Linked DNA regions of Homo sapiens: regions 1 and 2 are each linked to region 3. The links come from fine-mapping of genetic effects on gene expression. A gene starts in region 3. Each other region holds a variant in brackets. All regions are shown on one strand. Distances are from middle to middle.

Evidence for each region. PIP is the estimated chance that this variant, and not a neighbour inherited with it, causes the effect.
Region 1: its variant is fine-mapped to the expression of CAMLG in monocytes (Kim-Hellmuth 2017, PIP 0.95).
Region 2: its variant is fine-mapped to the expression of CAMLG in monocytes (Kim-Hellmuth 2017, PIP 0.95).

What each region holds. Positions count from the first base shown.
Region 1 is chr5:135,246,663-135,254,845 of GRCh38, reverse strand. The region is part of intron 3 of PITX1-AS1 (PITX1 antisense RNA 1); the gene reads right to left. It overlaps LINC02900 (long intergenic non-protein coding RNA 2900), which reads left to right and starts at 6,669. Exons shown (of 4, transcript NR_037895.1): 1 at 6,669-6,720; 2 at 7,034-7,233. RefSeq lists an enhancer at 7,020-8,183. The variant G/A (reference allele first, on the strand shown) is at 4,325.
Region 2 is chr5:134,760,415-134,768,597 of GRCh38, reverse strand. It overlaps DDX46 (DEAD-box helicase 46), which reads right to left. Exons shown (of 23, transcript NM_001300860.2): 2 at 4,506-4,694; 3 at 1,538-1,681. Among named protein-coding and RNA genes, the nearest start is that of DDX46, 5.7 kb to the right of the region's middle. The variant C/AC (reference allele first, on the strand shown) is at 4,323.
Region 3 is chr5:134,734,930-134,743,112 of GRCh38, reverse strand. CAMLG (calcium modulating ligand) reads right to left here and starts at 4,565. Exons shown (of 4, transcript NM_001745.4): 1 at 4,321-4,565; 2 at 1,590-2,050. The coding sequence starts at 4,492. RefSeq lists an enhancer at 4,928-4,977.

The DNA.
Region 1 (8,183 bases), 510 kb before region 3:
TATTTTCTAGATGAGGAAATTTATGTTCAGAGAAATTAAATGACTTGCCCAAGACCACACAGCTAATAACTGGAGACACTGGGACTTGAACCCAAGCAGTCTACATTAAGGTTCACACTCTTAATCTCCATGTCATGAAGACATGAGTGAGGTGTTAAATGTTTACTTAAGCCAGATTTTCTTTCACTGATGATTTGACATCTGAGTTCTACTAATTCATATAGCTCTCCACGCATTCAGGGCCAAAGCAACACTCACATATTTTTTTTTCCCTCACACATCTTGCACAAGGAATTGCTGCTTCCAGACTTAATCTCACCAGAATACCTTTACATCATTCTGCTGTCTTCAGGAGGTCCCTCTCCCTAGGTTACCTGCTCAAAATAACAGGCAGAGGGCCAAGATTGGATGGAGGTTGCAGAGTATGGCAGCAAAGCAATGCCCTAAAGCATACAAATGACTCCTCGGGCAAATGCAGACAGGTGTGACTGTCCAGAGCCGACCTCTGAGGGGCTGGAGCCTCGACAGGTGGCCTGACTCCAGGAGAAAGTGGGGAGCCTTGGTGCACTGAGGGTCATCAGCTAATGCATCTGAATGGCGAAGTCATGATTTCAAGGGGGCAGAAGGGAAAATTCATCTAACTCCACTTACAATTCAGCAGCATAATTTCCCAGACACATTGTCTAGAAATAGTGTGAGCTCTTTTTGAAGCAGCCTCTTGACTGTTCAAAGAAAGACTTCCCCCAGTCATTTTTAAAACTAGAGACATTGTCATTAGGGGAGAAGAGATCAAAAGCACCTTAATCTCCTCTATCAGCAGGCCAGCTACTTACCAAGTCTGAGAATGTTCCCCATGTGCTGCTTCCTGAGTCTGCCCGATAGTCCTGGGATTGGTATCTTGGATCGTAAAAAACAGAAATATGGTTTTACTTATACAGGTCTCTATCTCTGGGAGATGCGTGGAATGATAACACAATGGCCCAATCGACTCTCACCCCAACGGCTGCTCAAGGGTATTTCCAAATTCATAATTGGGATAGCTGCGGTTGCTTTCTTTAAAGAGGGATCAAAACATTGAAATCCATCCAAGACCACTGCTATGTAACCTGAGAGCGGGCAGCATTCATTAATGGGACACGCACAAGGCACTTGCCCTCATGTTCTTAAATAAGATTCCTTCAACAATCCTCAGGGAAAAGAGGGCCCTATGTCTCCAAGTGCTCAAGAAGTCTCCTCTTGTATGAGAGGCTTACAATGCAGGCATACCTATCCAAGGCTGTCTCTTATACCACCAGGCTGCTGCAAATTAAGGGTGCATTAATAGAAGTATGCTTCTAAGAACACAGGAGGTAAGGCCTTTCTTGCTTCTATGGGTAAGTCGTACAAGGGTATATGGCATTCGATGTCCTTGCACTTTAAAGTGAACTTTGCCCAATTAGAAGGATCAGCACATGTGAGATTAGAGTGCAGCATAAAGAAGGTGTGAGTGTGAGTTAGAGTGTTAATCAACAGCAACTGAAATAAAAACACAACTAGGCTAAATTTGTTCAGACCTTACAACCATTCCATATGTCTTGGTCCCAGACCTCCTGTCACTCTAAGCACCCAGTGCTGCTGTTGACTAATACCCTAACTCACACTCACACTTTCTTTATTCTGCACTGTCATCTCACATGTGTTGATCCTTCTTCAACTAAACTGTGAGCTCCTTGAGGGCAAGGATGGTGGGTGATTAGTACACAGTGCCTGGCTTGCTCGAGACATATTTGTTGAATGAACAAATGAACAGACAGACAGACAAACAAAACGACTGCCTTGGGAGAATGAGACCTCAGATACTCATATCCATGGGATGAAGGGATGACCCTGGCCTGATCATGGAAGGGGTAATGAAATTCTGGCCTGCCTCCCAGAGAGATGCCAGAAGCAGAAGGATTAGGCTCTTCCAGAGTCTATAAGCAAGCTGCATGCCCACTATAGAAGCAAAGTCATATATGCCAAATGTGATGAAGCCAAAGATAGGCGTCAATGGGGTCAGGAAGCTGTGGAACCTCAGGCAAACCCAGGCCAGGCTGTGCCTCTGCTTCCTTTTGCTGTAAATGACTAAAATCACAGATAGCTCACCAGGTTGCTGGATGTATTAGTCCGCTCTTACACTGTTATAAAGACACTCCCCAAGACTGGGTAATTTATTTAAAAAAAAAAAAAAAAGAGGTTTAATTAACTCACAGTTCTGCATGACTGGGGAGGCCTCCGGAAACTTACAATCATGGTGGAAGGGGAAGCAGGCATGTCTTACATGGCGGCAAGGGAGAGAAAGCATGTGAGAGTGCAGGGAAAACTACCATTTATAAAATCATCAGATCTCATGAGAATTCACTCACTATCATGAGAATGGTATGGGGGAAACTGCCCCCATAATCCAATCACTTCTCCCCTGAACATGTGGGGATTAGAGGTCCCTCCCTTAACACATGGGGATTACAATTCGAGATGAGATTTGGGTGGGGACACAGAATCAAACCATATCACTGGAAGAAGCAAATAAAATGCTATCAGTAAAGGGCACATTAGAAACTATAAAGGGCCCTAAATGGGCAAGGAGAGAAGACAGAGACAACAGAGGTAAGTGGCATTCTAGAAGGAGAGAACAGTCTGGCCTAGGACATGAGTGGAAGGTTGCAGGGAAGAGTTCTGGGACTGGCTGGGCCCAAGAGCACCCAAGCCCTTCACTTGAGGGATGGCCACCAGGATGTCCTGGATGACATGAACCCAACCAGGAGGCTGGTGCCAAAGGGAGGCTGACAGCAAAGCAGGAAAGAAGGGAGCATCTCTGCACAGGGCCTGGCGGCACCTGTGTCATAATCTGCACACCCAGGACAGTAGGATGAAGCTACTGTCGCTGTACTGTTACCAACACAACACTGATAACATACCCAGTCCCTCATAATTGTAGTCACCTCTTGCTTTGGCCGCCAGGAGACTCACAGTCTAATCTGCAGCCTACCCTCAACAAAAGCACTGGATCCATAATGGCCTTTCTTCCTCCCTCCCCCACCCTACCCCTGCACCTTTCCTATTAGACTGTAAGCTCCAGGAGGGCAGGAACCATGGCTGTTTTTCTGTTCACTGCTGTATCTACAGAGCCAAGCACATGGTAAATCCTCAGTATCCTTGCTGAGTGACAAACCACACTCCTATTTTCTTACCCTTCCTTTCCATTTGCCCCAGGTTCTTCTTATTTAATGTTTGTCCTGCCGCAACATCAGTGTTTCTGAAAGCCACCACAGATCCTCTTTTGTACAAGGTGGGATATAAATAAATACATAAGGAAAAGAAGACATAACACATAAAGAATCCACGGATGCACAATTCCCCCAAGTAGCTTATATAACAGCATGGCTCTGCTGACCTGCCCCCACCCTTTCCAGAGGCAAGCGAGGCAGGTGCAGTTGCAGAAGACGCTGTTTCTAAAGTTCAGTTTTGTCCTTAGGAGGCCTTCCTACCGGGCTGCTCCCAGAGATTGTGTTACCGCCAGGCCCAGCTGAAAGGTTGCCTAGCAACACTCAGCAGCCTCCGCGCCTCTAAATCCCTAATTTGTGTCTTACATGTACACAGCGCAGTGCTAGCATGACCCCAAGCAGTAGACACCTCTACAAATCCCCATCTAAAATAGGCCTGATCTGCCTGCATTAGCAGAGTCTGAGGCCCAGAACCTCCTCCTCTTCCTGGCCTGTGACTTCTAGCCTGGACACATGGGTGCCCATGGAGCATAAGCACAGAGGCAGGCGCTTTGAGTCTTGATGCTACTGTGTCTGGTTTGCCAGGAAGAAGCAAGGAAAAGGAGATGAGCTTGAGCTTAAAGCCCATATAGTTTAAGCCCATGAAGATCCCATCACCCTATGAAGAGCCGCCTCATTGGAGATTTTCTGCTCTCAGGCAAACACTTTATTTTTCATCCAGAAGGGTCAAAAACATGCCAACGTGTAAATAAATGAAGTGTTGTTTAAGATCATGTCTAAACAGTGTGCAAAAATAAATATCCTCACTCTAAAGCAAGACAGTATACAATATCCATCTGTGGAAGCAGGAATACGAGGAGTAATTTGGGGGAAAATTGCTTTATGAGACCCAAATTTCACCTGTGGCTTCTCAGAAACCATGATAAAGAGCAAAGAACCCCTAACTCATAGACTTCCAAACAAGGCCCAGGGATGTGGACATGGGTTCTCATCCCTTCTTTCTGGCTCAAAGAAACCTTGCAGCAACCTCCTTGCTGCCAGTGACTGTAGATTTTACTGCAGCCTCTCCAACTGCTTCTCCC[G/A]CTTAACTACCAGGCAATTGTGAGCCACAGCACTGTCCACAGGAAAACACTCCTCTTTTCCATTTCACTGCAAGAGGAGGCCATGCTTTCTTGTACTGGGCCTAAAACCAGTCAACTCCATCTGGCCTCTGTCTCTAAGCCAAAAGTTAAAACTTTAAGCATTACGTACATAAAAAAAACAAAAGAACAATTTCAGTTCTTGTGTTAAATTACATTTTTGATAGTGAAATGAAAAACAGACGAGGAGAAGGGGTGAAATCAAGACACTGTGGAGCTGTGATGCTCAGTACAGAAGCCACTAGTCCCGTAGGCCTATCTAAGTTAAAATTAAAATTAAAATTAAATAGAAGTAAAAAATCTAGTCCTTCAGCTGCACGAGCCAGAGCGGGTATTTCAAAAGCTCAATAGACACACAGGACTAGGAGCCACTGTGTTGCACAGCTCAGATCTGAAGAACATTTCCATCACCACGGAAGGTTCTGATGGATAGCACTGCCCTGGATGAGCCCCCGAGTGGACCATGGGCACAGAGGTCCATCCCCAACATGGCGGTGCCTATCAAGAAGCCCTGATCATCACTTCAGAGCTGGGTCCTGAGTCTTCAGTCTCAGAAAAACCTCTACAGCCAAGGCCCAAACACTTCTGGGAATTTGCCCAGGATCCCCAGTGCAATGTCTCACCCAGACTTATCCTCTTATCTCAACAAAAGTTCCCTTGTGACTCATCTCCCAAGGCCACACTGTCACACTGCTCCAGGGGTGTAGCGAAAATGGTGCCCCACTGCCCCACCACCACCAAGGATACGTCCACCCAGGACCCATGAGCATGAACTTATTTGGAAAAATAAGTCTTTGCAGATATAATTAAGTTAAAGATCTCAGGATGAAGACCAGGCTGACTCAACCAGGTTGTTCCTAAACCTGATGACAAGAGCCTTTATAAGAAGAAGAGATGTCACAGAGCAGGAGGCCACATGAAGACAGAGGCAGAAACTAGAGTTACATAGTCACAAGCCACAGCATGCCAAGGACTGCCAGCAGCCTCCAGAAGCCACGAGCGAGAAGCAGGACAGATCACCCCGCACATCCTCCCGAAGGAGTCAACCCTGCCAACACCTGGGTTTTGAACTTCTGGCCTCCAGAACTCTGAGAGAATAAATTTCTGTTGTTTTAAGCCACTTGGTGTGTGGCAATTTGTTGCAGCAGGGCTAGGAAACTAATATAAGGGGTTAATGGCAAATTATGACTGAATGGGTTTGCTCTCCCAGGAGAGATGCATTCAGCATGGATGCCTGGCCTGTGACTTCCAGCCTGGACCCATGGGTCCCCACTGAGCATGAGCGCTGAGGCAGGCAAGCAGACGGAGCCTCGGGCCCCAGGGCCACCATTTGATCTGCACGTGCCAGGAGGAAGTACCTGATGGCAGTGGCAGAGTGCAGGATGTGGGAGCAGTGAGGCCTTTGCGGCACTCCTCAAAAGATGCTACAGAGATGGCTCTGGTGCCCCCCACCCAGTCTCTCCTGACCTTTCTCCCCTTGTGGCTCCCTCCTCCACACCATCCTGGGCCACTGTGCTCTGCCCTTTCTCGCTTCTCCTCTCCTGCTGATCTCATTCCTACTCTCATCCCAAGGCTCATCTCAAAACCCACCTCCTCCAGGAAGCCTCCTCGGACCACCCCATCCCAGCATGACAGCTGCATGCCACGGCAGAAGGAGCCCTGAGTTCCAGGCTTGGCCTAGCCATGCCCTCCCTATGAGACTCCCATCAATCTCTTCATTTCTTTCTAGGCCTCAGTATCCCCATCTGCAGCATGAGGGGTGAGGCTAGACCAGCTCTAGGATTTCCAGCTGTCACATAACACGCTCACCAATTTGCACCAGTATTCACCTTTTTTTTTGCCTGGCATGCAAGAGATGTCAAATAATAGCAATAAACATTATCTATTTATTTATTTTTTGAGACAAAGTCTGCTCTGTCACCCAGGCTAGAGTACACTGGCATGATCTCGGCTCACTGCAACCTCTGCCTCCCGGGTACCAGCGATTCTCGTGCCCAGCCTCTAGAGTAGCTGAGATTACAGGCGTGCACCACCACGCCTGGCTAATTTTTCTATTTTTAATAGAGATGGGGTTTTGCTATGTTGGCCAGGCTGGTCTTGAACTCCTGACCTCAGGTGATCCTCCCACCTCGGCCTCCCAAAGTGCTGGTATTACAGGTGTGAGCCACCACATCTGACCTAATAATATTAATTATGAAATAAAAACTAGCAATTATGAAGCTGATCATAATGCTAAATGCTTTATGTGTGTTATCACAATAGCATTTTTTTGGATGGATAGATGCATCGGAGGAGGGGAGAGGAGAGGAAAGTGGGAGGAGAGGCTGCACTCTAAACAGGTCTCAGACTCATGAAGGCAGAACCCTTGTTCCCCTGGCTGGTCCCAGCACTGAGCTTAACATGCCACAAGGGGCTCAACACATATGGGGAGGGACACCAAAGAACTTACAGAAAGGAGACCAGATTTAGGAAGTATCTTACTTTTGAACAGGGTCTGCCCTTTCTCAATGACCTATCCACCCCCACCTGCTCCTTTGAACTTCAGAAGCTTCTGAAAGGAATCAGAGCTTCAAAGTAAGGGACTGCCAACCATAACAGGATCGCTGCACAGATACTGACCAAGTTGGGTGCATCTCTGATTTTTTTCTCCAGCCCTCTTGCCTGAGCAATCTGACGCAGAGGCACATGAGGAATCAGCACGGAACCATCGACCCACAGGGTTAATCCCAATGTCAATACCTGCTAGATGTCAGGGATCCCCTGGGCTGCTGGCGAGCCATTTGAAATGACCCATCTCCTGCCACCTTGGCCTGCTCCTCTGGGCCACCTCTCTCCACCTGCACTTGCTTACCGTGAGTAACCTGACCCCAGTGGGCCCAACCCAGGTGTGTTAGTCCTGACAGGGCCAAGAGGCCAGGACAGCTGCTGCCTGGCCTCGTTCTCAGTACCCTGTGGAGAAGGGGCGGCTCACTGGCATTACCCCATCATTCCGGCACTAGGACACACGGCTGGCTTCCCTTGGGGCGGAACTGCTGGTTCCATGGGCACAAGGCAAACCCTGGGAGGTCCTAGCCGTTCCTAGCGCATCCGCTAAACGTAAGGCATTTGCTCTCCTTCTCCCCCACGCCCCCAGGGAAGACGGCAAGGCCACCGGTGCACTTCGCAGTGCCAGGAGAAAGGCGCCTCATGCTATTAGCTCAAATAAGGAAAATCATGCCGGGAAGATTGAATTTTCTGCAGACTTGTTTAACCTGGTGATTTCTGAGCACTTGGCGCTGGCAGCCACGGGGGAGTGGGCTGCCAGCCGGCACTTTATCAGCCACTTCTCAGGACTATTCCTAAGCTTATTAAATCAGCATGAGTCACTCCCTTGCCTTCCTCACAAGCATGAATCACGAATCATCAAAACCCAAGCAAAATGCATGACTCAATAGTTTCTTCGGGGCCTAAAGGGGCTAGCGAGCTGGCGGTAGGGTGTTGTCAACCCGAGACCTCCCCCCACCAACAAGCAGTACTTTCCAGGGAAGGCAAGGGGGCTGCCACAGGGCAAAAAGAAGAGCTCAGAGGAACTTTCAAATACCTTGCATGGGCTCAGAAACACGCAGACCTGGGCTCAACCACACACTCGCGCAGTTCTGCTGTATGCCAGGCACCTTGACAAACACACTAGAGGAGCCAGCAGAGAGCAGGACTAGCCATTCTCTGCCCCCGCGTTGCTTACAGTCTAGAGGGAAGTGTTTGAAGTAGTTGGGATCCTATTTTTATTTCCTTCCTAGCTAGGAAAAACTTGGACAAGTCATGT
Region 2 (8,183 bases), 25 kb before region 3:
CAGATTTGATGTAAGATACCTAGAGGTGAAGAAGAAGATACTCTCTGGCACAAACTTCTAAAAGGTTTAGAATTTTGCCATCTAATTTGGTCTTTGCTTGGAATTGCTTTTTGTACACAGAATAAGGTAGGCAGTCTTATTTCATAAAAGGATACTAGATATCCCTAGAGCAATTTAAAAATTTTTCTGGCCAGGCACGGTGGCTCACGCCTTTAATCCCAGCACTTTGGGAGGCCGAGGCGGGTGGATCACGAGATCAGGAGATCGAGACCATTCTGGCTAACACGGTGAAACCCCATCTCTACTAAAAAATACAAAAAATTAGCTGGGCATGTTGGCACACACCTGCAGTCCCAGCTACTCGGGAGGCTGAGGCAAGAGAATTACTTGAACCCGGGAGGCGAAGGTTGCAGTGAGCCGAGATTGCACCACTGCATTCCAGCCAGGGCAACAGAACGAGACTTTGGCTGTTAAAAAAAAAAAAAAAATCTTCACTTATTACATCATCACCTCTGTCATCTATCAAATTACCATGTGTATGGATGCCTTTCTGGGCTCTTTACATGGTTCACTAATCTGTCTGTCCACTGCTAAACAAATTGCACATTGTCTTAATTTCTGTTAACTTTTTTTTGTTTTTTTTTTTTGAGAAGGAGTTTCACTCTTGTTGCCCAGGCTGGAGTGCAACGGCATGATCTCACCTCACCGCAACCTCTGCCTCCTGGGTTCAAGCGATTCTCCGGCCTCAGCCTCCAGAGTAGCTGGGATTACAGGCATACGCCACCACGCCCAGCTAATTTTGTATTTTTAGTAGAGACGGGGTTTATCCACAATGGTCAGGCTGGTCGCCAACTCCCAACCTCAGGTGATCCGCCCACCTTGGCCTCCCAAAGTGCAAGGATTACAGGCGTCAGCCACCGCGCCTGGCCTAATTTCTTAACTTTTAAGACAAGTCTTGGCTGGGCGCGGTGGCTCAGGCCTGTAATCCCAGCACTTTGGGAAGCCGAGGTGGGCAGATCACTTGAGGTCAGGAGTTCGAGACCAGCCTGGCAAACATGCCAAAACCCCATCTCCACTAAAAACATAAAAATTAGCTGGGATATTATGTCTGCCTCTTCATATAATCCCAGGACTTTTGGAGGCCTAGGTGAGAGGATTGCTTGAGTCTACAAGTTTAAGGTTAGTGAGCTATGTTCTTGCCACTTCACTCCAGCCTGGGCAACAGAGTGAGACCCTGCCTGAAAAGAAAATGACAGAGTTTCTACAAAGATGTCTATAAAATACATTTCTGATTGACAGTTATGTATTAAGTAAGAATACAATGTATTGAATGTTAAAACTGACAGAATCTATTATTTTCCAGTTGAATTATAAACATTATAGCCAATTAAAATAAAACACTGCCAACAGTTCATGGTAGGAGCCAAATGCAGTTAATTCTCTATAAATACAAACTTACAGGGAAAAAAAAAAAAGGCGCAGAGAAGGGAAGCAGTCCCCAGTCTGCACTATAGATGCAGCCCAATGATAACATTACCTATTCTCAGTTTTCTTGCTTTTATTTCCAGGACTGGAGGATCGGGATCGCCGGCCCCGGCTTCTACTCCTTGAGCGTCTCCTGTCTCTACTTCGAGATCTTCTTCGCTCTCGGCTTCTGTCTCTCTCTCTACTTCTGGAACGTCTGAAAGGGGGACACTTTTCATTTATTCTATGACCAAATGGAGCTACTATTTCAGATCAGGGGATTCTGTCCCACATTGAAAGAATCTTAATCACTACCATTATTAAAGGTGGAGGTCTCAATGAAGTAAAGCCAAGTCTTATAAGTGCTCAACGAAAAAAATGAGAATACTAATTTATTTCTTTCATTTTTTTAAAGACAAAGTCTCACACCTGTCACCCAGGCTGGAGTGCAGTGGCACAATTGCAGCTCACTGCAACCTCTGCCTTCTGGGTTCAAGTGATTCTCCTGCCTCAGCCTCCCCAGCAGCTGGGATTACAGATGTGCATCACCATGCCCGGCTAATTTTTTTTTTTTTTTTGGAGACAGAGTTTTGCTCTTGTTGCCCAGGCTGGAGTGCAATGGCGCAATCTCAGCTCACCACAACCTCCATCTCCTGGGTTAAAGCGATTCTCTTGCCTCAGCCTCCTGAGTAGCTGGGATTACAGGCATGCACCACCATGCCCAGCCAATTTTGTATTTTTACAGATGGGGTTTCTCCATGTTGGTCAGGCTGGTCTCGAACTCCCAACCGCAGGTGATCTGCCTGCCTCAGCCTCCCAAAGTGCTGGGATTACAGGCGTGAGCCACCATGCCAGGCCAGAGAATACTAATTTCATAAAGATGTTTGTGAAAAAACCATAATAAGTCTGTAATTAACATCGATTGAAAATCGATGGTCTAAGATAGAATATCTAGTTTCAGATAGCCTAAACCTAAGTATAAGGATGGGCATAATGGGTCTACTAAAAGATCACTAATCTGAAGATGAAGAGGCAAGAATTTCTATCCTGCTACTCCTGGTAACTAATGACATGATGAAGGTCAGATCTCCAACTTTCTGGGTCTCAGTTTCATCATCTATAAAATATGGAGACTTCACTAGACATCTTTAAAATCCCTCTTGCTCTAAAATCTTGTGATTCTACTTTCACACCCAAAAGTCAAAGACCAAATGTTAAATAACCATTTTCACTTAAGTACTTGAATTAATTGTGTGAAATTGTTCCTAGGACCACAAAATGTGAAAATGCTATCCACATTGTCACGGGTGAATATTTTCCCTGAATCCTACGTAACAACAATGTACTCCAATGTCTGAAAAGGATAAAGTTAAATTCTTTCTATGATCCACTCACAACACAATCTTGTCTTCCTTTCCTATTTTAATGAGAAACTGGGCAAGGTATGGTATCTCATACCTGTAGTCCCAACCCTTTGGGAGGCCACTAGCAACACAGTTAAGACCCCCATCTCTATGAAAAGCTTTTTTTAATTGGCTGGGTGTGGTGTGCACAGAAGATTATTTTCTTTTTTTCTGTTTTGAGATGGAGTCCTGATCTGTCGCCCAGGCTGGAGTACAGTGGCACCATGTCGGCTCACTACAACCTCCACCTCCCAGGTTCAAGCAAGTCTCCTGCCTCAGCTTCCCGAGCAGCTGGGTTTACAGGCATGCACCACCACACCTGGCTAATTTTTTTTTTTTTTTTTTTTTTAGTAGAGACGGGGTTTCACCATGTTGGCCAGGCTGGTCTCAAACTCCTGACCTCGTGATTCACCCACCTTGGCCTCCCAAAGTGCTGGGATTACAGGCATGAGCCACCATACCTGGCCAACTTTGTCACTATTAAAAATACAAAAATTATCCAGGCTTTGTGGAGCATGCCTGTAATCCCAGTTACTCAAGAGGCTGAGGCATGAGAATCACTTGAACCCGGGAGGCAGAGGTTCCAGTGAGCCTAGATCGTGCCACTGCACTCCAGCCTGGGTGACAGAGTGAGACTCTGTCTCAAAAAAAAAATAAATTAAAAAAAAAAAAAAGATTAAGGCGCTCTTTAGTTTAAATCTATGACAGCTCATTAAAATAGTTTAAGAGGCTTGGAGAGGGTCTGCTTTGTTTCCTTTTTCTGCCTGCTTTAGAGGCTGCTCTAAACACACTGTTTAGCAAAATGAAGAAAGAAAGAGAAAGAGAGAAAGAGTGAGGGAGGAAGGGAGAGAGAGTGGAAGGGAAGGAGATAGGGAGGAAGGAAGAGAGAGATGGAGGAAGGGAGGGAGGGAAGGAGGGAGAGAGGAAGGAAATTTTACAAATTTCAACAAGGGTGGCAAAAAAAAAAGGAAAGAAAATTAACACCTTGGTCAGCTCTCCTGGAGCAGAATTGGAATAGAACCCTCTTGAATATAACTTATTACTTTACTTTTTACTTCATTTTGTATGTCCCTCAGAGGGCTTCAAGGGATGTCTTTGGGTTACAGGAAATACAGCCTAAAGTTTCCAAACTAAAAACACTGTTTGATGGTCGGACACGGTGGCTCACACATGTAATCCCAGCACTTTGGGAGGCCAAGGTGGGAGGATCACATGAGGCCAGGAGATCGAGAGCAGCCTGGCCAACATGGCAAAACACCGTCTCTTTTAAAGACACAAAAATTAGACAGGTGTGGTGGTGCACATCTGAAATCCCAGCTACTTGGCAGGCTTAGGCATGAGAATCGCTTGAACCCAGGAGGTGGAGGTTGCAGTGAGCAGAGATGATACCACTGCACTCCAGTCTGAGCAACAGAGTGAGGCTCTGTCTCAAAAAAGATTAAAAAAAAAAAAAAA[C/AC]ACTGTTTGATAGAGTCTTTGTAGGCACATCCTTCTGGGTCTAATCAAACAAGTAGGGGATAAAGAAAAGGGCCTGCAATTGGGCCACCAAACTCCAGTTGAAAACATACTTTTCAAGAAGCCTGCTATAGCCGAGAAGGCCCAATTTATCACTCGTCTTTTGGAAATTAATTAATGTCTTACCTCAGACGCTTCCTGTCCCTTGACCGAGATCTTCTTTTATCCCTGCTACGAGACCTCTCTCTCCTCCTATCTCTATCTCTACTTCTAGACCGTCTGTCATCTCCACGTTTACTTCTTTTGTCTGAGGGTGAGCGACTTCTAGACCGACTTCCAGAGCGACCCCGGGATGCCGATCGTTTTCGATAGTGGCTAGAACAATAAGTCAAAGATTAAGTTCAGCAAACACCATTAGCTTCTATTACATTTTATTACATTTTTTCTAAAAATAATTTCAGCAGACAAATTTAACACTCAAAGAACTTTTTATGAATTTTTCTAAAATTAGGAGGGAAAAAATGAACCCTTCTGCTTCAGCACAGACACATGTAGAGGTGGAAAATCTGTCTTGAAAGAGAGGCAAGGACAGTGAACAAAACAGACCAAGCTCCTGCCTTTGAGCTCCAGGCAGCTTACACTCCGGTAAAGGAAAAGACGGCAGACAAGTGAAGAAACAAACACTGTATATAGTATGTTTATATACAATATAAATATGACATTTGTTACAGAGGCTTGGAGGAAATAAAGGAGCCATGTAGATATACAGGGAATTTTCCACGCAAAAGGCACAAGTGCAAAGTCCCTAAAGAGGAAGCTTGACTGGTGAGTTTAAGGAACAGCAAGGATGCCAGTTGTGGCTAGTGTTGAAAGAGTGACACAGCGTGCCATAAGACGAGGTCAGAAAAACAGCAGGGAAGCCAAACCTGGAAGGCCTTACTGGCCATTATATAAGGACTCTGTCTTTTACACCAAGATGAAAATCTACTGGAAGACTTTAAGCAGAGGAGTGACACAACCTCATTAATGTTTTTATTTTTATTTTTAGAAACAGGCCTCACTCTATTATCCAGGATAGAGTGCAGTGATGTGCTCACAGTTCACTGCAACTTCAACTCTCTGAGGCTCAAGCAATCCTCCCACTTCAGCCTCCCAAGAAGCCGGAACTTCAGGCATGCGTCACCACACTTAGCTAATTATTATTATTATTTTTTTTTTTTGAGAAAGAGTCTGGCTCTGTTGCCTAGGCTGGAGTGCAGTGGCACAATCTCAGCTCACTGCAAGCTCCACCTCCCGGGTTCACACCATTCTCCTGCCTCAGCCTCCCGAGTAGCTAGGACTATAGGCGTCCGCCATTACGCCAGGCTAAATTTTTTTTGCATTTTTAGAAGAGATGGGGTTTCACCATGTTAGCCAGGATGGTCTCGATCTCCTGACCTCGTGATCCACCTGCCTCAGCCTCCCAAAGTGCTGGGATTACAGGCTTGGGCCACTGCGCCCGGCCACTCAGCTAATTATTTTTATTTTATTTTATTTATTTTTTTTGAGACAGAGTCGCACTCTTGTTGCCCAGGCTGGAATGCAATAGCACCATCTCAGCTCACTGCAACCTCTGCCTCCCAGGTTCAAGCAATCCTCCTACCTCAGCCTCCCAAGCAGCTGGGATTACAGGCCTATACTACCACGCCCAGCCAGTTTCGTATCTTTAGTAGATGAGGCAGTTTCACCACATTGGTCAGGCTGGTCTGGAACTCCTGACCTCAGGTGATCTACCTGCCTCAGCCTCCCAAAGTGCTGGGATGGATTACAGGCATGAGCCACCGCATGCAGCCTTTTTATCATTTTTTTAAATTTCTTTTTTGAGACAAGGTCTCACTCTGTCACCCAGGCTGGAATGCAGCAGCTCAATTGCTACTCACTGTAACCTCAACCTACTGGGCCCCAGCAATCCTTCCACCTCAATCTCCAGAGTAGCTGAGACCAAAGGCACACACCACCGCGCCCACCAATTTTTTTTTTTTTTTTTTTTGGGTAGAGATGGTGTCTCACTATGTTGCTCAGGATTGTCTTAACCTCCCGGCCTCAAGCATCTTCCCACCTCAGCCTCCCAAGTAGCTGGGACCAAAAGCATAAAAGCGTGTGCCACTATGCCCACCTATTTATTTCTTTTTATTTTTCATTTTTGTAGAGATGGAGTCTTGCTATGTTGCTCAGGATGGTCTCAAACTCCTGGGCTCAAGCAATCCTTCCACTTAATGTAATCCCAAAATGCTGGGATTACAGGTGTGAGCCACTGCACCTGGCCTAATGTTTTTAAAGTATTATTCTGGTTGCTGAGAGAACAAACCAAACAAAGGGAGGCAAGGACAAAAGGAGAAAGAATAGGCAGGATTAGCAAAGACCAGCACTATAGCAATCATCCAGGCATGAGATAGTGGTGGCATAGATCAAAATGGAAGGTGGAAAGATTTTGAGAAATATCAAAATCTGGATATCTTGAAGCTAGCACCGATGGGATTTAATGATGAACTAAATGTCAAGTGTGACAGCAAGAGAGAAATCACTCAGTTGCCATTTACCAAGATGGGAAGGCTGAGGGAGAAATCCAGGGAGAAGGTGGATCAGAATATTAGGTATCCAAGTGGAGATATATAGTATATAGTTGAAATATTAGCCTGTAGTTCAAGGAAGAGGTTTCTCTAGAAATATAAACTGGACAGCTATTAGTGTACAAAGGCTATTTAAAGCTATAAACCTAAATAAGATCACTAGGAGATGAATGCACCTGATTATCTCTCAAGCACCTCAAGTTCAATCTGTAGAAACCCAAACTTGTTACCCTTCCCTCCCCAAACGATTAATCGTACCAACTTCCGGTCACTAGGCTCAAAACATTAGTCATCATCAATATTTTTCTCTTGCTCTCATTCGATACAATAAATAAAACACCAATTGGCTGGGCACAGCGGCTCATGCCTGTAATCCCAGCATTTTGGCAGGCCAAGGTGGGCAGAGAGCTTGACCTCAGGAGTTGAGACCAGCCTGGGCAACATGGTGAAACCCTGTCTCTACAAAAAATACAAAAATTAGCAAAGCGTGGTGGCACACGCTTGCAGTCCCAGCTATTCGGGAGGCTGAGGTGGGAGGATCTCTTGAACCTGGGAAGCATAGGTTGCAGTGAGCCAAGATTGTTTCAATGCACTCCAGCCTGGGAGACAGAGCAAGTCCCTGTCTCAAAAACAAAAAAACAGGCCGGGTGCGGTGGCTCACGCCTGTAATCCCAGAACTTTGGGAGGCCGAGGCGGGTGGATCACAAGGTCAGGAGATCGAGACCACCCTGGCTAACACGGTGAAACCCCGTCTCTACTAAAAAATACAAAAATTAGCCTGACGCGGTGGCAGGCGCCTGTAGTTCCAGCTACTCGGGAGGCTGAGGCAGGAGAATGGCGTGAACCCTGGAGGCGGAGCTTGCAGTGAGCCGAGATCCCACCACTGCACTCCAGCCTGGCGAAAGAGCGAGACTCTGTCTCAAAAACAAAAACAAAAACAAAAAAACAACCAAGTAATACCAATTTCACCTCTGTAATTCCCTTCACATTATATCACCTCCACAGAGTTCCAACCGTCACTATTCTATATCAGACATATCTACCTAGGAGATTCTTAAAGACTGTAGTCTTCCTGTTTCTATTACTTTTCCATTAAATCTTACTCATTGCTGCTAAGGAGAATTCTGATTCTATTACACACTTTTTACTCAAAATCTTCAAAGGTTCACAAACAAATTCTGATCTTCAAAATCTACAATCCACCCGCTTTCTGGGCCCAAGTCCTATTCAGGACCTACCTCCTACTACTTCTCAA
Region 3 (8,183 bases):
GAAGTTCTAGTCCAGCCTGGACACCATAGCAAGATCCTATCTCTAAAACAACAACAACAACAAAACTAAATGCTTGGCTGGGTGCGGCGGCTCATGCCTGTAATCCCAGCACTTTGGGAGGCAGAGTTGGGTGGATCATGAGGTCAGGAGATGGAGACCATCCTGGCTAACACGGTGAAACCCCATCTCTACTAAAAATACAAAAAATTAGCCGTGCGTGTTGGCACATGCCTGTAGTCCCAGCTACTCGGGAGGCTAAGGCAGGAGAATCGCTTGAACCCAGGAGGTGGAGGTTGCAGTGAGCCAAGATCACATCACTGCACTCCAGCCTGGCGAAAGAAACTCCACCTCAAAAAAAAAAAGATTTACAAAAACTGTTTTGCTTAATGATATAAACTTTAATTATCTGGATATTTATGTGCCTGGTACATATACTTAAAATGTCTACTGAATGGAAAAACCTCAGAGCAAGACACTGAACTATGAGCTATGCTTTTCTGCATTCTTTAATATACTATAAAACAAAATGACTACATCATGGTACAACCAAAATGGACTCATTATGATATATTAGGAAATGCTGAAATGTCTTCTGAACCATAGGAAGATTACCTCATATTCAGGACCAGAGGAACTGCATTTTACTATTTCAAATTATTTGAAAATTGATAATATACAGTATATATATGTAAAGCACTTAACCCTTTGGTTAAGGACTGAAACTGCCAGGGTTTAATCCTAGCACCGCTTAGTAGCTGTGTGACCTTGGGCAAATGGTTTAACCTCTCTGAGTCTTCATTTCCCAATGGATTCACATAATACCAAGTTCATAAGAATGAGGATTAGATGAATTAATGTATGCAAAACAATGAGAAAGGTCCGTAGAATGAAAAATGGGTTTTAGTACAGTCATCCCTCAGTATCAGCAGAGGACTGGTACCAGGTTCCTCCTGATACCAAAATCCATAGATGCTCAAGTCCCTTATGTAAAACGGCACAGTAAATATAACCTACTCACTTCCTCCCATATACTTTAAATCATTTCTAGATTTTTTATGCCTAATGCAATGTAAATAGTTGTTATACTGTTTTTATTTGTATTATTTACTATTTGTTATTGTTGTATTGTTATTTTTCCCCCAAATATATACACATACATATATTTTTGAGACGGGGTCTCACTCTGTCACCCAGGCTGGAGTGCAGTGCCGTTATCCTGGCTCACTGCAACCTCCACCTCCCGGGTTCAAGCGATTCTCCTGCCTCAGCCTCCCAAGTAACTGGGATTACAGGCGTGCACCACCACGCCCGGCTAAATCCAAATATTTTCAATCCACAATTGGTTGAATCCACATAGGGTGCAGAACCAACTGATATGGAGGGCCAACAGTAATTATTAGGCTCTGTATTTAACCAGAACACTTCATTCTATGAGATGAATAGCAAAGTTAATAATATATCTTCAAACAGCCACATGGATCTGGTAGATATTAATACTGGCAATGACTTCTATGATCAAAAGCACTCATAATTATTAACATTTTGCATTTTCCATTAAGTTAGTTAATAATTTACAGATCTTTTCTTACCAAGTATTTGCAAACAAAAGCTCTGACTCCAAGAGCAAGAAGAGCACATCCCACCAATCTAAATATTCGAAAAGAGTCAAATTCTTCTGTTGTATTTCCATCCTCTTGACTGGGTTTTTCACTAATCAGCTGTTTCCTTAGCTTCATTGCTTCTTCGAATCTGGAAAGGTACTGCTCTAGGCCATGGCGGGAACCCCTCTGGACCGAGTCCGCTGTCAGGTCCCCTCTGTTCCGCTGCCGGAGCTCAAGGTTGACATCACTACTGCACTCAGGTGGTTTAATGAACGAGTCCAATTTGTCTCCCAGTTGGGTCCCCTTTACCTCGGCCACACCACCCTGCTGGTCAGTTGTTCCTGTACTGACTGAATCACCCAGCACTACTCGCTTTGAAACGGAAGGAACGCTGAGGGAGTTCAGTTTATCACTGTCCTGCTGCTTTGATTTTGTTTGACTTTCTTCTTCTGAGAAAAGAAATGTAAAAGCCTTATGTATTTATTCCATACTGGCAAACACCTTACATGTTTATGTTTTAAAATATGCTGTTGCAGCTAGAACTCAGCAGCCTCTGCATCAAAATAAATAAATACCGATTCTGCATTAAAGAAAAGCTGGTTTCGGCCAGGTGCCGTGGCTCACGCCTGTAATCCCAACACTTTGGGAGGCTGAGGCGGGCGGATCATGAGGTCAAGAGATTGAGACCATCCTAGCCAACATGGTGAAACCCCGTCTCTACTAAAAATACAAAAATTAGCTGGGTGTGGTGGCGTGTGTCTGTAGTCCCAGCTGCCTATAGTCCCAGCTACTCTGGCTGAGGCAGGAGAATCACTTGAAACCCGGGGGGAGGAGGTTGCAGACACTGCGCCACTACACTCCATCTGCATCTGCCTGGCGACAGAGTGAGACTCCATCTCAAAACAAAAAAAAGAAAAAAGCTGGATTCTTCCTCTACACCCTCAAAATGTATCACCCAAAATGAATATTCTGCAGAGGAAATAACCCAAACTTTGTGGGTAGGAGATAAGATTAGTAGACAAACTGGGAAAGATATTCAGAGATGGAGCAAGCTGAAAAGACCAACTTTTTATGGATAATATATCCCAGATGTATGATTGCATTGCCTGCCTTAGCTTATTTGGTTAAAAATATAAAATCAGTAAAGCCTTTTAAAATCTATATTTTAAAATTAGATTTCTGAATCCAGTGCCCTATGAGCATAGGGTGTGGCATATCCCAAAGCTACTGTTTATGTAGTCAGGCAGCCATTAGTAGGCACTTCAGCAGTTTTAAGACACTACTCTGGGGTTTTGTTTTTGTTTTTGTTTTAAAAAAAAGGCCAGGCACAATGGCTCACACCTGTAATCCTGTAAGCCCAGCACTTTTGGAAGCCAAGGCTGGTGGATCACTTGAGCCCAGAAGTTCCAGACCAGCTTAGGAAACATAGTGAGACCCCCCCATCTCCACACACACAATTTTTTTTTAAATTAGCCAGGCATGGTGGTGTACACCTGTGGTCCTAGCTACTCCGGAGGCTGAGGTAGCAGGATTGCTTAAGCCCAGGAGTTTGAGGCTGCAGTAAGCTATGATCATGCCACTGCACTCCAGCCTGGCCTACAGAGGGAGACCCTGTCTCAAAAAATAAAACAACCTTTAAAGACATAAAATTTTCAAAGCAAAAGAACAAAATATAGAAAGTACCTCAGGTAAGATCATAAATAATGCTTTAAGAATAAATAGCCCGATAGAAAAATGTTTCTTCTATTGTTCTAGAAGAATTTGAAATGGTTTTCTTACCTCTCATTTGAACTGCCTAAAAGTTCAGAGCTATACACCTAAAGCCTTACAGAACAAAAGTCACAAAGATATAAGGAGCTTGCGACCAGTGACTAAAGGCCAATTACTAAAGGAAACACTGGAAACTTAGATAACACTAGGGCGCGCTAATTGCTCAATTATACTCACGTGAAATAAATTTTTTTTAAAGAAAATCATTGGACATGTGTTTGGGGGAGGAAGGAGGCGCTCTCCTTAGAAATGCAGCTCCAGACATCAATCACAACAATATCCCCTCATGAGGAGAGGAAACTCTCAGGTGTGCACTTCGCACTTGCTGGGTCTCTGAAGAATGCTCACTCTCACTTTTCCCACCTTTTCTAGCCGGCCCGTAGGTGACAGTGTTGACGGCACTGAACACAAACACTAGGATATGAGCACAAGAGTCCCTGATACACGTAGGATGAACTAGCGGGCAGTTCAGTAAAGACAGGCTGATGTGGGCGGACAGGAGTTACACAGCAAAAGGCAAAAGAAGGTAGACGCTAGAGAAGGCACTGTAAGGAAAAGCACTTGGAACCTTAAGAAGGAAAGCCATCTTCCTAAGGGGAGCAGTAGACATGACAGTCTGGGGATACAACGTGCGCCCTTCAAGAAAGGCGAGGAGTGGCTAAGGAAAAAAGGGGCTGTTCAACGTAACTGGGAAGAGGGAGTGAGAGCTCTGCAGGCAGGGTGGGGAAAATCTCACGGCGAGGCCCCGGGAAAATTGAGGGGAGCGACTAGGAACATCCTGGGGTTCAGGGATGAGAACTTGGGATATCACCGAAGGGGCGGGACAGAGAGGAAATCAAAGAGCAAGGCTTGGTCAAAAAGGTCAGAGGAGTGGAGGTGGGAGAGGGAAGAATGACCCTGAAGATTCAAGGTGATGGGCGGGAGACTGAGGGGAAATCGAGGCTCTTACCCGCGCCGCTCCCGGGCCTGTGAAAGCCCATGATCCGGTTGATGCGCTGTTCCGAGTTCATGAGCAGCTTTCTCCGACGCAGCTCCGCCCGACGCTGGGAAGCCGACAGACCTGAGCCCGCTGGGACCCCCGGCCTCTCCCCGCCGTCGGTAGCGACGGCCATCGACTCCATCCTCCCGTCCACAGTCTGGGAGGGGTGGCAGTGGCGGTGATGTTGGCCGCCGCTGCGAGGGCGATGACTAGAGGCCGGGCCGCAGGGCGCGCGTCCCCTTCCCACTATAGACCCGCCCCCGAGCGCGGTCCCGGAGCCTGTGAGCTAAGCACTCACGCACCGCCCCACGCGACCAAGCGCGAGGCTCTGGCCGCCATCTTGAGTGAGGGCAGCGCTGGACGCCCTCGTGCCTCCCCAACTCTTCTGGCCCTCACCCAACAGCCCCCTCTGCTGTTCACTCGGAGGTGAAGAAAACCAGCACCCAGGGCCGGGAGTGGTGGCTCACGCCTGTAATCCTAGCACTTTGGAAGGCCGAGGCGGGCGGATCACGAGGTCACGATTTCGAGAGTAGCCTGGCCAACATGGTGACCCCCTCCCCCCTCCCCCCACCCGTCTCTACTAAAAATACAAAAACTTAGCCGGGCGGGGTGGCGCGCGCCTGTAATCCCAGCTACTCGGGAGGCTGAGGCAGGAGAATCTCTTGGACCCAGGAGGCGGAGGTTGCAGTGAGCCGAGATCGCGCCACTGTTCTCCAGCCTGGGCTACAGAGCGAGACTCTGTCTCGAGAAAAAAAAAAAGAAAGAAAAGAAAACCGGGAGTGGGAAAGGGATGGCAGTAAGTAGGTCAGCCTAGATTTGGTGCCAGGAAGCAAAATGGAGGTTGCAGCGGCAGTCGCTTGTTTACAGACCCGCGGCCTCGCCTGTAGGCAATGGGAATACGTAACCCTGGGAGCCGCACTTAAAGGGAGCCTTACGCTGGGATTTGTTCTTGGTGCCTGTTCCTCATCCTTAACTTCTCTACGGCAAAGTATACGGCTGATGTGTTCCTAGGCTTTCCTCGCGTTTTGTGCGTTTTTATTCAAATTAGAATTTCCCATTGAAACCTTTCGTGCACATTCTATCTAAATTGCCAACACTCCCCATTCCCCTTCACCTTGTTTTTTCTCCTTGTCGTTCATGACCACCTCGCATGCTAAAGATGCTCCAGCCTGGGCGACAGAACGAGACTCCGTCTCAAAAAAAAAAAAGGAAAAGAAAAGAAAAAAACAAAAAGGCCGGGAGCGGTGGCTCACGTCTGTAATCCTAACTTTGGGAGGCCGAGGCAGGCGGATCACCTGAGGTCAGGAGTTCGAGACCAGCCTGGCCAATATGGCAAAACCCCGTCTCTACTAAAAATACAAAAATTAGCCTGACCTGGTGGCATGCACCTGTAATCCCAGCTACTTGGGAGGCTGAGGCAGGAGAATCGCTTGAACCTGGGAGGCAGAAATTGCAGTGAGCCGAGATCATGCCACTGCACTCCAGCCTGGGCGACAGAGGGAGACTCCGTCTCAAAAATACATATATAAAAGAAATAAATAAAATAAAATCAGAACAAATGACTGGGCGCGGTGGCTCATGCCTGTAATTCCAGCACTTTGTGAGGGCTGAGATGGGTGGATCACTTGAGGCCAGGAATTCGAGACCAGTCTGGCCAACGTGGCAAAACCCTGACTGTACTAAAAATACAAAAATTAGTCGGGCTTGGTGGCGTGTGCCTGTGGTCCCAGCTACTTGGGAGGCTAAGGTGGGAGGATCACCTGATCCTGGGGAGGTTGAAGCTGCAGTGAGCAATGATCGGGCCACTGCACTCCAGACTGGGTGACACAGTGAGACCCCATCTCAAAAAAGTTTTTTCAGAAAAAAATAATATATTTGCTATATTGTAATGGATCCAGTCTGGATTATAGTCATCATTAATAGCAATACAGTCATAAAATATAATTTTAAGTATGTTTTCAGGCAGGAAGGAGCCACAAAGGCAAAAGAGCTTAGGGCCCTTGAAAGTCATAATGCAGCCTTGGCATTCAGTAATGACTTACTAAGTGAATGATTAGATGAATGAAGGAATTGAATCCATCAACCCTTGCTAACAGGGAGCATGGCCAGTTCACACCTGAGGCTGAGGAGGGTTTTGAAGCAGCTTACTGGGTGGGCCCCCTGCAACTAAGCCTGCCACACAATCACCCTCAAAATAAGGAAGTGGGTGAAATACCACTTAGAAGATAATAAAATACTATATTTATATTAATACTGAAAAAGAAGTGAAAACAAAAGAAACTTCGGTTTGGATTCAACAACATAAGGAGCTCAAAGAATATACAGACTGAACTTTCACCCTTGATTGGATGAAAGTTAAATCCCAGGGACATCCACTAGTTAATAATTTTAAAGTATTAGAGGAAGTTCTTCTGCATATCTGCACAGACATAGATCTCTGAGCCCTAGACTTCCTTAAAACAATTTTACACACAACTGAAAATAATGGAAATAACTGTCAAATAGTAACAAATGTGCAGAATTTGATGAGGCACAGCCCTGATCAATCAAGACGGTTCCAGAAAGGGTTTGAGGAGCTAAATTAGAATTATAGTGTTATATTCAATGATATAAGCATCAAGCAAATTATTTCCAAGTAATATTTCATTCCTCCTTGAAACTGAGGAAGCCGTATAACTGAACTTGAACAGAATTATAAAAAATGTCTGGGCTGGCATGTGGGAGGTCCAGGCAGGAGGATCACTTGTGGCAAGGAGCTCAAGACTGACCTGGGCAACATAGTGAGACCCCCTTCTCTATTTAAAAACAAAGAAAAGAGATCGGGAGGCCAGGTGCGGTGGCTCACACCTTTAATCCCAGCACTTTGGGAGGCTGAGGTGGGTGGATCACTTGAGGTCAGGTGTTCGAAACCAACCTGGCCAACATGATGAAACCCATCTCCACTAAAAATACAAAAATTAGCCAGGCATGGTGGCACACACCTGTAATCCCAGCTACTCGGGAGGGTGAGGCAGGAGAATCACTCAAACCCAGGAGGCAGAGGTTGCAGTGAGCTGAGATTGCACCACTGCACTCTAGCCTGGGCGACAGAGTGAAACTCTGTCTCAGAAAAACAAAAAAAAAGAGTCCAGGCGCAGTGGCTCACACCTGTAATCCCAACGCTTTGGGAGGCCAAGGTGGGAGGACTGCTTAAGCTTAGGAGTTCAAGACCAGCCTGGGTAACATAGTGAGACCTCGTCTCTAGAAAAAAAAAAAAATCAAAAAATTTAAAAAAATTTAAAACGAGGCAGGAAGTTTGCTGCAATGAGCCATGATTGCATCACTCCACAACCACCTGGGTGATAGAGCTAGACCTTGTCTCAAAAGAAAAAGAGTAAAAGAATGAATTGATGAAACTGCTTAAAAGAAATTCAAGAACAATTTTCAGAAATTAGCAAATTACTTCCTCTAAATTCCATAATGAGTCAAATTTTTATTTTTATAAACACAGGGTCTTACTCTATGGCCTAGGCTGGAGTGCAGGGGCACAATCATAGCTCACTGCAGCCTACAGCCTTGAACTCCTGGGCTCAAGCAATCCTCCTGCTTCTGCCTCCTGAGTAGCTAAGGCTACAGGATTGAGCCCAGATAATTTTTTTTTTTTTTGAGATGGAGTCTTGCTCTGTCGCCCAGGCTGGAGTGCAGTGGCGCAATCTTGGCTCACTGCAAGCTCCGCCTCCTGGGTTCAAACCATTCTCCTGCCTCAGCCTCCCAAGTAGCTGAGACTACAGGCGCCGGCCACCACACCCGGCTAATTTTTTTTGTATTTTTAGTAGAGACGGGGTTTCACCGTG